Regions from separate parts of the Homo sapiens genome. Here all the other regions are linked to region 3. Evidence: fine-mapped expression QTL. A gene starts in region 3. Each other region holds a variant in brackets. All regions are shown on one strand. Distances are between the middles of the regions.

Evidence for each region.
Region 1: its variant is fine-mapped to the expression of MGAM2 in whole blood (TOPMed, PIP above 0.99).
Region 2: its variant is fine-mapped to the expression of MGAM2 in tibial nerve (GTEx, PIP above 0.99).

The regions. Positions count from the first base shown.
Region 1 is chr7:141,985,852-141,992,140 of GRCh38, forward strand. It overlaps a transcript of MGAM not described here. Among named protein-coding and RNA genes, the nearest start is that of MGAM, 6.9 kb to the right of the region's middle. The variant A/G (reference allele first, on the strand shown) is at 2,974.
Region 2 is chr7:142,062,578-142,067,577 of GRCh38, forward strand. MGAM (maltase-glucoamylase) reads left to right here. Exons shown (of 71, transcript NM_001365693.1): 35 at 1-125; 36 at 922-1,009; 37 at 1,807-1,945; 38 at 2,758-2,891; 39 at 3,011-3,045; 40 at 3,138-3,254; 41 at 3,996-4,144; 42 at 4,764-4,848. Among named protein-coding and RNA genes, the nearest start is that of MGAM2, 47 kb to the right of the region's middle. The variant T/C (reference allele first, on the strand shown) is at 3,033.
Region 3 is chr7:142,108,690-142,114,978 of GRCh38, forward strand. MGAM2 (maltase-glucoamylase 2 (putative)) reads left to right here and starts at 3,029. Exons shown (of 48, transcript NM_001293626.2): 1 at 3,029-3,118.

The DNA.
Region 1 (6,289 bases), 120 kb before region 3:
AGGTGCCGTCCGTCACCCCTTTCTTTGACTAGGAAAGGGAACTCCCTGACCCCTTGCGCTTCCCGAGTGAGGCAATGCCTCGCCCTGCTTCGGCTCACACACGGTGCGCGCACCCACTGACCTGCGCCCACTGTCTGGCACTCCCTAGTGAGATGAACCCGGTACCTCAGATGGAGATGCAGAAATCACCCGTCTTCTGCGTTGCTCACGCTGGGAGCTGTAGACCGGAGCTGTTCCTATTCGGCCATCTTGGCTCCTCCCCCCAGCATCTTTAATGGCAGCATGGAACCTTGTGATTAGGGACATAAGATCAGTTTTCTCAGCAGGGACCCATGGGTGGGGATTCCTTTTGAGGGATCTCTGGACCCCTCTTAAAGTTTTATTTTGTTCACAAACATGAGCTAAGGGTGAGGAGGTTTTAAGTAAAAGCTGATAGAGCTGTAAGCCATTGGATGACAGCCCTTTCGTGCTTCTTCGTAGCAGATTTCACATAAGAGAACACTGTGTAGCTCTGGCACTTGGAGGGTTCTTTCTCTGTCTGCAGACACGGGAGCTCAAGCCATACCCAGAGACAGTGTGGACATGGCAATTCCCGGAGAGCAGACCAGGAGGAGAGGGAGGTACCTGGAGGAAGGATGCCAAGCCAGAGAAGACAGCAAACATGACAGAGACCGTACATGGCTGTAAGACATTGTTTGTGAATTTAAGACATTTCCTATGGCATTCTTTTCACATTTTTCCCTTGGGGTAGGGGACTGAGGGGAAATATACCTACCAGTGGCTCATTATAGGGGAAAATTTCTGCAGAATTTAGTGTTTGATGTTGAAAAACAATTGTGTACATTTGCATACTATTATATTATACTGCCACAATTTTAGCAATTCAAAATATTGATTGAAATTACTTACTCTTCTCCAATAATCTTGAACTAAAATGGTATTTCCAAGAAAATGCATTATGACCCTCTCAATATGCCACCACATACCTCCTAGGGTATGTGTACCCTCATCTAAAAAAATAGAACTCAATGGGGATGCCAAACAATTGGGAGGGACTTTGTGGAGATTTGGAGGTCCTACACTTGCAGGTGGTGGTAAAAGCCAGAAAAATGCAGATAACAGGAGGACAACTTTTTGCTCATAGGGTAGACTATGATTAGACATTTTTGGTGGAGATATTTATTTATACTGGACAATGGAGACGAAACACGAGCCTGTCATAGCAGGGCTAGCAGGGACCATTTTGTCACATGGCACAGAAACAGAAACTGGAAGTTAGGATAGTGGTGGTGCTGGTAGTGGTGGTGGTAGTCATAGGCATAGTAAAGGTAGTGTTTTGATGAAGAAATAGGAGAATTACATGAAATTAACTTGTACCTTGGCCTTCACAGAAATGAAAAGAATACTGGCAGTTAATCTCTCTGCTTTTCCTTCTGTGGGTTTGAATGTTTTCTTTCTGCTACTCTCTACATGTGTATCCCATTCTCTTTTGGACAAACAAGCATTTTCAGTAAAACTAATCTCTGTATCTTAATAACATGCCGTAATCCCACAGACATAGTGCTCACTCAGTGCAGTATGATTCAGGCACTGTGTCTCAAATCTAAATTTTTGGGAGGGCGAATCCATCTGGACGAAGTCGGATCATCTGTCCAGCTGGTTCACTCAGCTGAGATCAGAGTGTTAGGGTTATGTTGAGCTTCCCACACAGAAGTGGACCATGCAGGTGTCAGCGAGGCACAGGGGAGGGGGGCATGGAGGAAATAATGGGGGTTTCTAGAACAAGATTTGAGCTTAAAGAGAAATAGCCATCTCTGAGGTGAGGATGCTAGAATTTGACAACTGATAGGATTGGAGGGATTCCCGTTTGGGAGACTTGGTGGCAAATCCACTTTGAATTTGTTGAATGAATGAACAAACATTTAGTTTGAAAAAGCCATTTTCTGTATTTACTGCTTTCAAACCCTATGAACATTGGATTCCTGGATTGAAATTAAATTAGTATGACTTTAACCCCACCACTATATGAGTGACCTTTAGCAACTCATTTCTCTTAGTTTCTGTTTCCTCATTTATACATGGGCATTAAAAATACCTGCCTTATCTTAAAGGATTGTTGTGATCAATGAAATAGTACAGATTAAAGTACTCCGAGGCTGGGCGTGGTGGCTCATGCCTTTAATTTCAGCACTTTGGGAGGCCAAGGTGGGTGGATCACCTGAGGTCAGGAGTTCAAGACCAGCCTGGCCAACATGGTGAAACACCATAGCTACTAAAAATACAAAGATTAGCCGGGCGTGGTGGTGCATGCCTGTAATCCCAGCTACTCAGGAGGCTGAGGTGGAAGAATTGGTTGAACCCAGGAGGAGGAGGTTGCAGTGAGCCGAGATTGCGCCACTGCACTTCAGCACTTTAGCCTGTGCAACACAGCAAGACTCTGTCTTAAAAAAAAACAAAAATATTTAAAAGGTACTCTGAAAACTGCAAAGTGTCACACAATGCAAAGTTGTTGTCGTTTTTTGTTTTGTTTTGAGACAGAGTCTCACTCTGTCACCCAGGCTGGAGTGCAGTGGCGCAATCTGGGCTCACTGCAGTCTCTGTTTCCCAAGTTCAAGCGATTCTCTTACCTCAGCCTCCCGAGTAGCTGAGATAACAGGCGCCCGCCACCATGCCTGACTCATTTTTATATCTTTAGTAGAGACGGGGTTTCACCATGTTGACCAGGCTGGTCTCGAACTCCTGACCTCAGGTGATCCACCTGCTTCGGCCTCCCAAAGTGCTGGGATTACAGGCGTGAGCCACCATGCATGGCCAAATGTAAAGTTTTATGTGAATACTAGGTGATGTGTTATTCCTAAAATTCTCTCTGTACTCATACTTGTGTGTGCATGTGTTCTTATCTGTGGTGGTGAAGAGGAAAGGAGTAGAAGACGGTGTAAAGCTGCTAAATAATAGACATTTCACAAGACAAGG[A/G]AATGCTGTAATGTCCTGTGTACATTGTTTCCACTCTCACCTTCCTCTGAACATTTCTGGGCAGAGAAATTACTCCTACTCCAACTAACTCCTTTTTGCCCTTTGCAGGTGGCATGAGATGTTAAGGTCTTTTATATGGGACAAAAGAAGGAAAACAACTTGGCTGCAATAAAAACAGAGGTAAAAATTAATGTTTGTAGGCTATGAAGACTGTGAGAAATCATTTTGATAGGTGGGGGTGTAGATGCCATGTGCTTGTGAGTGTGTGTGTGTGTGTGTGTGTGTATGAGTATGTGAGAGAAAGAGGGAGAGAGAGAGAGAGAGAGAGAAAGAGAGTCTTGTAGTAGTGGTTTTTCTCCATTGGCCTGTGGAATCAGTTCAGTGTGGGATGTGTTGACTGTTTACTGTGGCTATTCCTAAGGGTTGAGGAACTGGAGGAATAGTTCTTAACAGAATTTAAGCTAATGATACTGCTTGTTGGATATTATTTCATTTTCAGAAAGGACTGGCTGAGGAGGGGTTGGGAAACTGACATTGGATGTCAGGTACTTATGTCAGCTTAGGCTCAAAGTAACATCATGAAGTACTCATGATCATCCCTGATTTCCAGATAAGGCAACTGAGCTTCAGAAAATTGAAATGGTTGTCCAAGTTCTGCAGAAAGTAAGTAGAGGACCTCATATTTAAGCCCAGGCTAGTTTGATTTGAAACTCCATGTTCTTCTTTCTTTTTTTTTTTTTCGATTATTAGAGACAGGGTCTTGCTGTGTTGCCCAGGATGGAGTGCAGTGGTGCTATCATAGCTCCCTGCAGCCTCAAACTCCTGGGCTCAAGTGATCCTCTTGCTGCTGTATGGAGGCTGAGAATCCCTAAAGTGCATTCTCCAAATTTTCCAAAATTCCTCAATTTTTATGGAAAATTCCCCAGATTTTCAGTTGAAATCATCTGAAAATTTAACATGAAAATACTCTCCAAAAAAAGATTTATCTTGAATGAAATACTATGTTTGACAATTTCATACTAAAGGGATATTTTAGGGACACCTAATCCACCCATAGTTAATTACTGGTAAAATCCACACAGATAAAATTATTATTTTCTACAAGGATTTTATTCCAGGAAGGGAGAACACATGAAGTCATGTTCCATGTAGGAGGAGGAAGGATGCACACTGGGCCTCATCTGTCACTTCTGGGCTCAGCATTCAGAATGGGCTCTTCATGTGGGTCTGGCTTTGACAGAGAGTTTGAGGAGGCTCTGTGGGCAGCATCTTAAGGAGTGGCTAGCACTCCTCTGAGCACTTTGGGGAATGCACACCTATAAAACAGAGCAATATATTCTTGAATGCACTATTACCCCAGTGGCTTGGGAAAGGGGAAATGTCAGAACGACAATTACAACACACATAGAATGCTTACTATGGCCTATGTATCATGCCAAATGATTCACATGCATTATTTCATTCCCTCCTCATATCTACACAACTTCACTCCAAAGAACATGCACCTGTGCAGCTTCCAGAGTCCCCTGTGGATACTTAGTCTGCTTGGAGGTGTGGGGAGAAGTAATATTCTTCTGGACTAAAAACTGAAAGAAGCAGATAATCCAGTGTTTTGAATCTGTGTAGAAATCTATCTCGTGCTTATGACAGCTCTGGGCAGTTTCTTACCTGCAGTGGTTCCCTATTGCTTGCAAAATCTTCTTGCTGAGATGAGATGCTAGAATCTCTGCATTGTGGCTCCAGTGTACTTTCCCAGAAGTGTCCCTGATTGTCTCACAACTGTCTTCTCTGTGTCTTTTTACTGCAGTTTCTAAAACAGGTTCTGTTATTTCTTTTTTTTTATGTTTTTTTATTTTTTATTTTTTTATTATTATACTTTAAGTTTTAGGGTACATGTGCACAATGTGCAGGTTAGTTACATATGTATACATGTGCCATGCTGGTGCGCTGCACCGGTTCTGTTATTTCTTACCTGTGGGTCTGGCTAATGCTGCTCCCTTCGCCCAAAATATCTTTCCTTTTCGCCTTCCCTTCCCACTTCCACCCAGCTATGGCTTTGATTTCTTTCCTGTCCCTCCCAGCATGTGTATTCTCTGTCCAGTAGCATTTGCTGGTGCTGTCTTCTCTTTAGCATCGTAGCCATTTGACTTCTCTCTGCTATGAGGTCATGGAGGAATCACGCTCATCTATATTTCAGTGCAGGCTTGACCAGACTGCCTGGCTTTGCATTCTGGGTTTGCCTCTCATTAGTTACATGACCTGGGGCAAGTCGCCTTTGTGCCTCAGGTTTCTCATCTGTAAAACTGGGATAATAACAGTACCGACTGCATAGCGTAGTTACCAGGAGGAAGTGAAATAATGCATGGAAATCATTTAGCATAGAACATAGGCCACAGTACGCACTCTGTAGATGTTGTTACTGTTATTCTCATAGTGCCTTGTTTGTAGTACACACATAATGACTGTATATTGATGGAATTGTGTGGAGGAAGTGGTTATTGCTATATTTTCTGTGGCCGGAAGTGAGGAGGCAGCCCCAGGGCTAATGCTTGATCCAGAGGTGGGGTCACAATGGTTAGGGTAAGGGTGGTGGCTGGGGATGGAGAAAAGGATTTTTTTTTTTTTTTGAGACAGAATCTCACTCTGTTGCCCAGGCTGGAGTAGTACAATGGCACAATCTCGGCTCACTGCACCCTCCGCCTCCCAGGTTCAAGCAATTCTCCTGCCTCAGCCTCCTGAGTAGCTGGGATTATAGGCACGCGCTACCATGCCCAGCTAATTTTTGTATTTTTAGTAGAGACGGGGTTTCACTATGTTGGTCAGGCTGATCTCAAACTCCTGACCTCATGATCCGCCTGCCTCAGCCTCCCAAAGTGTTGGGATTACAGGCGTGAGCCACCACACCTGGCCGAGAAAAGGAGATATTTTAATCACATTCCAATCCTCACGTTTGCATAGTCTTCGAGGCTCCCAAGTAGACATGCTTTTCTAATATCTCCAAGCCTAGATAAGGCCATGTCACCAGACAGCAAGCCACTCCAGGCACCACAATGATTATACCTTGGTCTGGCCTGAACCATGTTTTTAAATCCAGGGACTTGGAGCTAAGCCTTTAAACTGCTACAGTCAGGCAACATCATAGATGTTGTGCAGGGTAGGTGTTCAATAATTTTTCCTTTGTAAACATGAATGACTGCCTGCTATGTTCGGAATTCTGATTTGGGGTCGAATGAGAGATTGGCATATTTGAATGGGCCTTGGATTGGGGATTCAGGGTCTGAGCTCTTGTCACAACTGTGGCAGATGCAAACTGATC
Region 2 (5,000 bases), 47 kb before region 3:
CTTATGTGGCCTTCCCAGACTTTTTCCGTAATTCAACTGCCAAGTGGTGGAAGAGGGAAATAGAAGAACTATACAACAATCCACAGAATCCAGAGAGGAGCTTGAAGTTTGATGGCATGTGGATTGTAAGTGTGTGTGTGTCTCTGTGTACCAGTGGCTCTTGTCTATCTTTGTGTGCCTAAGTATATGTACCACTGACCTTCAATCAAGAGGATAGTCATTGTCCAAAGAAGACTTTGGACATAGCAGACACTTCTTCCTCTCAGGAGAGGAACTGCCCTGGTAGCCCTCACACCTTCTACCAGACCTGACGCTCCTACTGTAAAACCTGTGAGGCGGGACCAGGCGTGGTGGTTCACGCCTGTAATCCCAGCACTTTGGGAGGCTGAGGTGGGCAGATCACCTGAGGTTGGGAGTTTGAGACCAGCCTGACCAACATGGAGAAACTCCGTCTCTACTAAAAATACAAAATTAGTTGGGTGTGGTGGCACATGCCTATAATCCCAGCTATTTGGGTAGCTGAGGGAGGAGAATCGCTTGAACATAGGAGGCAGAGTTTGCAGTGAGCCAGGATCGCACCATTGCACTCCAGCCTGGGAAACAAGCATAACTCCATCTCAAAGAATGAAAAACAAAACCAAAAAAAAAACCTGGGAGGCAATTTACTAGGAATTTCTGGAAATTTGATTGCCTCACAGCCACCCTGAAAGAGATCTATTTTTTTACCCCTCTAGCCAGTCGTTCTGTAGGAGTGAATTAATCTTTCTAGCCAGTTCTCACCAGGATTTGATGAAGCTCCCAGGGCTGGCATCTACAGAGATTACTGGATGTTGAACAATTTATTCACTACTTCCTTGGCTCAGAATTGGCAGGACGTAATTATCTTAAAAAGTGAGGTATGTCTGTGTTTGGCATTTCTAGGATATGAATGAACCATCAAGCTTCGTGAATGGGGCAGTTTCTCCAGGCTGCAGGGACGCCTCTCTGAACCACCCTCCCTACATGCCACGTAAGAAGCCTTGGCCTCCTTGACTGGCAGAGCCATGACTGGAAGGATTACACTGGAGGAGCCCGAGGCCAGGGGCAGCCCCACAGCTGAGGGCACATCCTCATGGCTGCTGTGGTTTACTGGGGACCAGAGACAAAAGCTCTGCACGTGCTTTACCCAGCCGGGCATGGGCAAGTGACTAGACTCATTGAGCAAATTTCTTGAAATTTGTCCAGAAAGCACTTAGCAGAGCTCATGGCACAAAGGGTTCTCACAGCTGAGTTTCTTAGTTTTTAGGCTTGTGTGAATTCCATCACAGGAATTTCTTGTGTCATCAGTGAGTGGAAATTACTGGCTTCCCCTTATCATGGAGCTGATGGACTTTGGAGTTACACTTGGGTTCATATCTTGGCTCCAGAAATTGTTCTCTCTAGGAGTTTTGTGACTTTTCACAGATTATGTGATATTTCCAAATCTCAGTTTGCTAAATTGTAAAAGACGGATAATGAGATCTTCTTCATAGAATTATGGAAATAATTGGAAGTCAAAAGCCTAAATCAGAGCCCGTCATGTAGTGTTTGACAGCTGTACGTTCTTCCTGACACCTCTGCTTCCTTCAGTGAACTTGATGTTGGAAACACAGCAGGCGCCAATGCAGCTCAGAGCTGGGGGCGCTGTGCTCATGTCTCTGGGGAGATGGAGAGCGACACAGGCAGGACTGAAGTTAGTCTTAAGATCCAGGGCCCAGTCCCTTGAAGAGAAGTCAGGGAGAAACAGAATCAGGGCTGGGTTTCACCTCGCCAGTTCTTCCTCCTCAGATTTGGAGTCCAGGGACAGGGGCCTGAGCAGCAAGACCCTTTGTATGGAGAGTCAGCAGATCCTCCCAGACGGCTCCCTGGTGCAGCACTACAACGTGCACAACCTGTATGGGTGGTCCCAGACCAGACCCACATACGAGTGAGTCTCCGTCTCCCTTCTCCAGCTGTCACAACCTATAGCGATTGCCAGTGACTGACATAGCTACCCTAGTTTTCCTTTCATTCCATTTCTAAGGATTAAGAAGATTCTCATAACTCTGTAATGATTCTTATTTATTAAACAAATGCTCATTGACATGGAGCCAGGCCCTGTGATTAAAAGTAGGAGGACAGATTTAAATAAGGCATGGTCCCACCAGTGAAAAACTTAATGATCCTAGTGGGAAAGACTCACATGGAGACACCATAATGGTCACACAGGGCAGCCAGTGGAACAATAGCTTTAGTTACAGGAGGTGAAGGGAACACAGAGGACTGGGCATCTCTCCCGTTCATTTCAAAGTGAATCATCTTTGGAGATGTTTGTATTTTTGGCCATTCTTGGTGGAGGGTAACTGGTATTGTACTGAATTAGCACAGTCCTGCTTTGCAAGCTCAATGAATAGTATGAATTCTTCTAAGAGGATCTTATAACCTTCACTGTGTTCCTTCTCAAATATAGAAAACTAAGTATTGAGGAAACCATTAGCAAGACATAGTAATTCCTTAGTATTTTGGGAGTACTCCAGTGAGGCTGCTACAGTGAAGTTCTTTGTAAAGCACTGTGAGAACACGTGACTCATTATCTCCATCATCTGGGATCAGTGGAACTCCTATTACAGCTCAGAGTCCCATGTTCCCTCCAGTCACGCAGCAAACATTGACTAGGCTCAAGGGCTCTGGGAGCAGAAGCTCTATGGCCTTTACTCCCTGGCTGTTGCCTCAGTTCACCTCCTGTTCCCTTCCAAGCAGAGCCGTGCAGGAGGTGACGGGACAGCGAGGGGTCGTCATCACCCGCTCCACATTTCCCTCTTCTGGCCGCTGGGCAGGACATTGGCTGGGAGACAACACGGCCGCATGGGATCAGCTGAAGAAGTCTATCATTGGTGCGTGGGTCCTTCCCCAGGGCCTTTGCCGACAGGGCAGGGAGTTGGGATCCTTAGGGAAGAGGTGAGGAGGCAGATCATGAGAGCCTGGTGTGACACAGCTGTGCTTCTCGTTGCAGGCATGATGGAGTTCAGCCTCTT[T/C]GGCATATCCTATGTGAGTGTCCTTGGGATCCTCCTAAGCACCAAGAAGGTGGGGACATCTTTCAGAAATCATCAGCAGGCTCCTTTTATTTCCTCTTGTTTCAGACGGGAGCAGATATCTGTGGGTTCTTTCAAGACGCTGAGTACGAGATGTGTGTTCGCTGGATGCAGCTGGGGGCCTTTTACCCCTTCTCAAGAAACCACAATACCATTGGGACCAGGGTAGGACAGTGGCTTCTACCTCCACTGTTTTATGTCACTTGAAAGACAGTCTCCATTTCTGTGCTAAAAGTAATGCAGTCTCTATTTCCTGGGATATCTTTAAAAAAAGGTGTTTTTTTTTGTTTTGTTTTGTTTTGTTTTTTTTTTTGAAACAGGGATTTACTCTGTTGGCCAGGCTGAATCGTGCAGTGTCCCAATCATGGCTGACTGCAGCCTCCACCTCTGGGGCTAAAGCGATTGTCCCACGTCAGCCTTCTGAATAGCTGGGATAAAGGCACATCCCAGCGTGGCTACCTAATTTTTGATTTTTTGTAGAAATGGGATCTTGCCATATTTCACAGGATGGTCTCGAACTCCTGGGCTCAAGCGATCCACTCGACAGCCTCCAAAAGTGCTGGGATTACAGGCGTGAGCCACTGCACCCTTAAAAATTGTGAAGACCTGGTGTCTCAATGAACCATATTCCTCATTGTGCTTTAGATTATTATTTTTTTCCTGTATTTCAGGCAGAATTTTACCAAATGTTCCAAAAAGAATGTCTTACAGTGAAATTTTATCAGCTGTCTTAGGAGAGCTTTGGTGACTCTTTCCGGTCTATTAAGAATATTCTCTGGGCCTCATGTATAGTTTTCTTTTGTTTAGCTGTGAGTGATCTTCAATTGGAGTATGCTTTTAGTGACCTTCTTAAATCCCCTAGAAATTCCAGGGCGAGCTCCCAACACTGTTCTCTTTCTCCTTTAGAGACAAGACCCTGTGTCCTGGGATGCTGCTTTTGTGAATATTTCCAGAAATGTCCTGCAGACCAGATACACCCTGTTGCCATATCTGTATACCTTGATGCAAAAGGCCCACACGGAGGGCGTCACTGTTGTGCGGCCTCTGCTCCATGAGTGAGTGTCCAGCAGGGATCCCGATGACTAATGGATGACTTATTGCATTCTATGTGGTAGCAGTTGATATACACAACGCTTCCAAATTAAAGACATGATGGCCTTTTGACATGAGCTCTTCAGACACAAAGTATACCTGATTACTGTCTTTAGCACAGTGTTATACATACCGTAGGTCATAAAAAAAGGGTATTTATTGAATGACGAAAATTGAAATGATGCAGTACAGCATAGAATAGTTTCATTCTAATTTGGTTGTGCAAAGGCCTATCTTATGTAGCAGTTTTGTTATATGGACCCAGGTCACAAAAGAAGGATTTCAGCAAGAGAATTGAGGGACGAGGGCCATCCTCACATTTAAAATGTGCCATGGTTAAGAAATGAGGTAATATTTTACAGGAGAGAACACATCTACATCCCAGCATTTCTGAAGTTTGAGGCACATCCCATGGGGAAAGCAGAGGCTGGGTGCTCCTGATGAAGCTAGGCCTAGGAACAAAGCAAGGATGGCTCAGGGGCAGCTGTATTTCCGACTTGGATCTGAACTTGAGGAGCTTCTTCAGAGTGTCGGGCTGGGGCTCTGTTGGGCTCTGTTGGGCACCTTCATTTCCCTTTCCAGGTTTGTGTCAGACCAGGTGACATGGGACATAGACAGTCAGTTCCTGCTGGGCCCAGCCTTCCTGGTCAGCCCTGTCCTGGAGCGCGTGAGTATGGAGGCCTCCGATGAGGGGAGGATCCCAGCTGTGAGGCTTGGGGAAAAGGACGAGGAGAAGAGGCCTGAGCTGGTGGGGGTCCTGAGACATGGTTTCTTATTCTACCTGTGTCTCTTCCTCTCTTTCTGAGCTGAAGTCCATCA
Region 3 (6,289 bases):
TATATACCTGCAAAGATAAGGTTATGTTGGCCGTGGCAGATGTCTTCAAGATCTCATCAATATTTCTTTGTTCTTGTCATAGCGGCAGAGTCACTGAGAGTTTTGCATCTGGCCTTGGAGAAAGGTGTTCTGGAAGTTAAGGGTGACTCATATTACTAGTTTCTGATCTGATGATTCCAACCAGCAGCTTGCTGTGACAACTGTTTGAGTTCCGCCAATAGCTAACTTTGCCGTGCCTTGTTACCGATAGACAACTGGAAGATGTCGGGTCACGTGCCTGTCTCTACCCTTCAAAGTGGCTCTGTTATTTTCTCATTGGTCAACACCAGTATGGTGATTCAATATCTTCCAGTTACTAGTTAGCAAGAATGGAAGGTGAAGGTAGCTATTTTCTGCACTTTAGGAAACAGGTTATAGATTAGCTGGGCCTGTTGGTTACCACTATTAACATAAATGAAGTCACAAATGTGCATGGCATGTGGGGAGTTAAAGGTAAAATATCACACAAAAAATAGATCTTATGTAACAATAAAATCTCCCTTCTTGACCTTTTGCCAGGATGTCTTCCCAATTTGAAATGAGATCTTGGTACATTTCCCCTCTAACAAAGGCCACCTTGTACTGGGGCAAATGAAAAGCTGAATATGTCATTCCAGCAGTTCATAAATGCAGAAACCGAGTCTCTCTTTCTCTCTCTCTCTCTCTGTCCCTCCCTCTCTCTCTCTCACTTTCTCTCTCTCTCTCCGTGTGTGTGTGTATGTGTGCTTTTCCACATACTGAGCATTTGAAGCAAACACAAAAGATTCACTACTGTGAACACTGTTATTTACAGTTCTTAGGTGCCACCAAAAGAGCTCTCTGTACCCTCATATATTACTGGCAGGAATGGGGGTGTAAAATGGTGCTGCCACATTAGAAAGCAGTTTTGCAGTTCTTCAAAAAGTTAAAGACTTGTCACATGACCCATGATTCCACTCCTAGGTATATTCCAGGCAGAATTTTAAAACGTGTCAGCTCATAGCAGCATCGTTCATAACAGGCAAAAAGTATCAACAACCTAGATGTATATCAGCTGATACATGCCTAAACAAAATGTGGTCTATCCACGCAGTGGATACTATCCAGACATGGAAAGGAACAGACACTGATACCTGAAATGGTGTGGATGAACTTTGAAAATATCATGCCAAGTAAAAGAAGCCAGACACAGATGGCCACATATTGTATTACTGCATTTATATGAAATGTTCACAATAGGCAAATCCATAAGGACAGAAAGTAGGTTAGTGGCTGCAGAAACAGGGGGAGATGGGAATGGGGAGTGACCACTAATTATTTTTGGGGGTGGCAAAAATGTTCTGGAATTAGATAGTGGTGATAGTTTCAGAATTTTGTAAATATATTTTTAAAAACACTGAATTGTATACTTTAAAAGAGTGAATCTTATGGTTTGGAAATTATATGTCAATTTAAAAATCCACTTTAGCTGGCTTAAGAAAAATTTTAAAAAGATATTGGTGACTCATTGAAACTCCGGTAGGACTAGAGAGTCAGGTTTGTAGGCCATGTGGCTAGGGACAAGCCCCAGGTTACCCTGTAGCGGTTTCTACTGCCACTGCCCTGAGCACATATCTGGCAGCTCGCAACCCCAAATACTGAGCATAGGATGCCACTAGGTCTCTTGTCCCTGCTGCCTCTGAAACGAGCTATGCTTCCAACATCCTGGATTTTACATGGTACCTCCTTATCTACACCTTCTTCTGGATGTAAGTCACTCACAGGAATATCTCATTCACAAAGCTCCAGCCACTTGCCTCTACCTTGGATGAAAGAAAGGCTGTGAAAGAGAATTTCTAGCTGTTTCTTTGGGGAGGCAGAATTTGGAGAAAAAGTCCTTAAGTTGATTTAAGTAAGAGGTTTTCTTTTTCTTTTTAAAGAAAGATCCTCCGTTTTTAAATTTTTTTCAACTTTTATTTTAGATTCAGGGTCTAAGATTCAGGGTGCATATACAGGTTCATTTCAAGGGTATATTGTGTGATGCTGAGGTTTGGGGTGTGATTGAACCTGTCACCTAGGTAGTGAGTATAGTACCCAATAGGTAGTGTTACTACCTTTGTCTCCCTCCCCACCTCCCCCATCTTAGCAAGAGGTTTTGAAAGATGCTGAGCCATCGAAGAACATGACAAATGTCCACTAGAGGCATCTTCCCACTTTAGGTTTGTATACATTCTTTCTCTTTTATTTTTTTTGAGATGGAGTTTTGCTCTCGTTGTCCAGGCTGGAGTGCAATAGGGCAATCTCAACTCACTGCCAGCTCCACCTCCTGAGTTCAAGCGATTCTCCTGCCTCAGCCTCCTGGGTAGCTGGGATTACAGCCGCCTGCCACCATGCCTGGCTGTGCAGATGGGGTTTCACCACGTTGGCCAGGCTGGTCTCAAACTCCTGACCTCAGGTGATCCGCCCACCTCGGCCTCCCAACGTGCTGGGATTACAGGTGTGAGCCACTGCACCTGGACGGGTTTGTATAATTGCTACTTTAATGGTACTTCACTATTTAGAATAATTGGTGGAAAGGATCATTTGAATTAATGAAAAGCTGAGTTATACCAAGAGAACTCTGGAGGATGAAAATGGAGAAAAGAACAAAGTGATGAACTAAGAGCTAATCCTTCTTTCACTTACTTATTAAATAAATAGCTATATATTTAAAAAGAACTATGGATATTGGGCAGAGTGCTAAGCACAGGAGATACAACAGTGAAGAAGATAGACAAGACCCTAGCTCTTGAGCCCTTTAGGCTACATGTATAGATGAGGAAACATAACGTGACAAGTAATCAGATATGAACAGGGATACAGAAGAGGGACAATGAGTAGAAAAAAAACCACCTTCCCCTTTTATTAACAAAAGGAGCTTTCATTCTGTGTCACATGGAGAACAAGCGTTCTTTTATGACCTATTGGAATATGCACTCCCCTCCTCCAGTTGCTGTCAACTTTATAAGGCAATAAATTAATTGTGGCAGAAGCTGGCTACCTCAGCCCAGTTACCTTTGCTCAGTGCTCCCTATGAATTGCTGAGGGAGAGATACAGCATAGAAAAAAACAAGGTGATGCGGTGAGTACGCTTCTCCATGCAAGCAGGGCTTTGAACAAGGGCAGGAAGGTCCCTTTCTTTTTGTGTGATTTTCTGTCTGCTGCTCTGTTAAGTGATCTGGATGCCCATGTTTTCCTTCTGGACTTAATATTTTCTTCCTTTTCCATAAAATATGAGGAGTGAGGATGAGATAGTTGATGGAGAGGAGAGACTGTGTGTGTGTGTGTGTGTGTGTGTGTGTGTGTGTGTGTGTGTGTGGTGTCAGTGTTTGGAGGACAGGTTGGGGGAGGTCTGGTGTGAGATCCTCCTCTCTCACTGGGAGAAATTAAGGACAGAGGAAACAGATGGGATCCTTCTGGAAACTATCTCAAGATGGCATGGATTTGGAGGAAGGTGAATTCCTCCCAGCTTTGGGCAGGAAGGGTTTCTAAGTAGGCAAGAATTTCTACCTTTAGGAATCCCCATCCTGTCCTCTGCCTGAATGACAATAGCTCCTAAGGCAGGAAAATACCCAGGGTTATTCCCAGAGCGTTCCTGTACTTCCTGAGCTAAGGTGCTGAACCTGCTCCCTCAGGAGGATTGAGGAGCTGTGGAGTAGGTCCCTGCTGCTGATTTTTAGAAGCTAGAAAGAAAAAAGTCTCCCTGTGGAGAGAAATAATACTTGCAGAAAGAGACCAATTGATGAATAATGCCTTTGCTGTGGTATTGAGTTGTGGGCTGTATGTATAAGAAACGAAGTTTGATACCATAGCACTCTTAGGGTAGGTCCTTCCTACTTCTTTCTCTACCTGAAATTCCACCATTGGAGACCGATCCTCTAAGTCTTTAAGCTCTGCAGCCTAGGATACATTGTCGAGAGAGTATTCAAGTACTATTTTAAAAAGTAGCGGCTCTCGGTGTTTGTCTCAGTTCCACCACTAACCGTGACTAGACAAAATTTCTTAATATTCATCTATAAAATGGAAATCATGATATCTGTCTGATCAGCTTCAATGCAGGGATTTTATGAGAATACAGTCATATGATATATATTTTATAGGGATTAGAGTATATCTTTTAAATAATTTAGACTAAAAGAGAGACAACTGATTAATTTAGGTAAATAGTAAAGAATAGTTAATAAACCTCAATTTTAATCCCAAACCTCGTGTCTCCAAGGGCTAAGGGTTCTTCCTAAATGCCTGTTGGCAAATTACCTGTAGGTCCTAGTTCCTTACCTCTATTTCAATATTAAAGTGCTTCTTTTATGGAATTATTACACATTAACCTAAAGGCTACTGTAATTAAAAATTGAAGCTATATACCTATATAAAAATATTTGTAGAAATGGTCGTGGCATTGGGGAGGAGTTGAGAAGAGCAGGGAGGCAGGGAAATGAAAAGTAAGAGGAGATGCAAAATCAACATAAAAATAAGAGAGAGAACAGTCTTTGTCCCTGCTGACTTATATTTAATAGCTTGTTGCTGCATAAGTGCTGGTTTAGTATGGTGGGAATATGGGGAGAGGAGACGCTGAGCAGCTGGGGTTAGGACGTGCCATGAAGACCTTTGATCACAAAGCTAAAGGGTTTTTGGTTTATTCAGAGATCCATTAAAGGCTTGAATATAGGAGATCCAAATGACCCTGTTTGTGCTGGTCACTTGGGTAATGACCCAAAGATACCGGGAAAGTAGTCTGACTGAACTGTTAACTGGCTGTGAGAACTAACAGAATGAGAGGAATTAAAAAAAGATTCCTAGGTTTTTTTTTTATAATGTGATTCTATTCCTCAAGTTATTAATTATTTGAAGAACAGATAATTTGGCCAAATTGGCAGGAACTGGGAGTGAGGTGTGGGGAGAGATGATTTCATGTTTAAACATGTTAAATCTTATTGAATCTGTGGGACATCCAATAGGCAGTTGAATATATGAATCTAAATCCCTGGGCTAGAAATACAGGTTGGATTGCCATCACATGTCATATAAAGTCACATGAGTGGTGGAGATTACCCAACGTGTCTGCGTAGTTTAAAAAAGAAGCCTATACCAGAATTTGGGGGGCATCAACATTTAATGAAATAGGGCTGAGCGTGGTGCCTCACGCAGGTAATCCTAGCATTTTGGGAGGCCAAGGCGGGCGGATCACCTGAGGTTAGGAGTTCAAGACCAACCTGGCCAACATGGTGAAACCCTGTCTCTACAAAAATATAAAAATTAGCTGGGCATGATGGCGGGTGCCTGTAGTCCTAGCTACTCGCGGGGCTGAGGCGGGAGAATCACTTGAACCTGGGTGGCGGAGGTTGCGGTGAGCCGAGATCGCGCCACTGCACTCCAGCCAGGGCAACAGAGCGAGACTCCATCTCAAAAAAAGAAAGAAAGAAAGAAGGAAAGAAAGAAAGAAAGAAAGAAAGAAAGAAAGAAAGAAAGAAAGAAAGAAAGAAAGAAAGAGAGAAAGAAAGAAAGAAATAGGAGACTACAAAGAATATTGAAGATAAGCCAGAAATAGAGGTGGAAAGCCAAGATTCCTATCAAGGAATCCATATGTGGAAAGTTTCATGGAGGAGAAAGTGGTTAAGTGATTAAGACAGCGCCCATTGTATTCAGCCACTATGTCACTAGTAACCTCGGTGGGAGCATTTCCAGTGGAATGCAGAAAACACAGCCAAGCCAATAACACATGAGGAAGGGAATACAGAAAGTGTGGAACTATCGTTTTGGAAGATTGGCACTGGAAAGAAAAAGAATGTTATTATGCTACCTGCAGAAGCACACAGAGTCATTAACAGAGTTTGGGGTGACTTGGGGTATATTTATGAAGGAAAGATATTCAGAGAGTGAATTTGATAATGCAAGACAATAAGAGATAATTGGTGGAATGAAATTTTTGAGAAATTCAACAGCTGTGAGATCTAGATAACAGATACAAGGATTATGCTTAAACAAGAAGAGGAAAAACTGTTTCATTGAGAATAGAGGGGGAAAAATAAGAATTTACCTAGATGTGAATAACCTTTGTGGAAACGCTTGGGTTGAGAAGCAGAGAGAGAGAATAGTTTCTGCAAAATCATTATTTTTTGGGTGATATCAGAGATGATACTGCATGAGAATAAGAGTGTAGGTAATAGAGTCAGGCCTGAAAAGAAGGATAGAAGGAACAATTTTTTAAATTACAGGCACGGTGGCTCATGCTGTAATCCCAGCACTTTGGGAG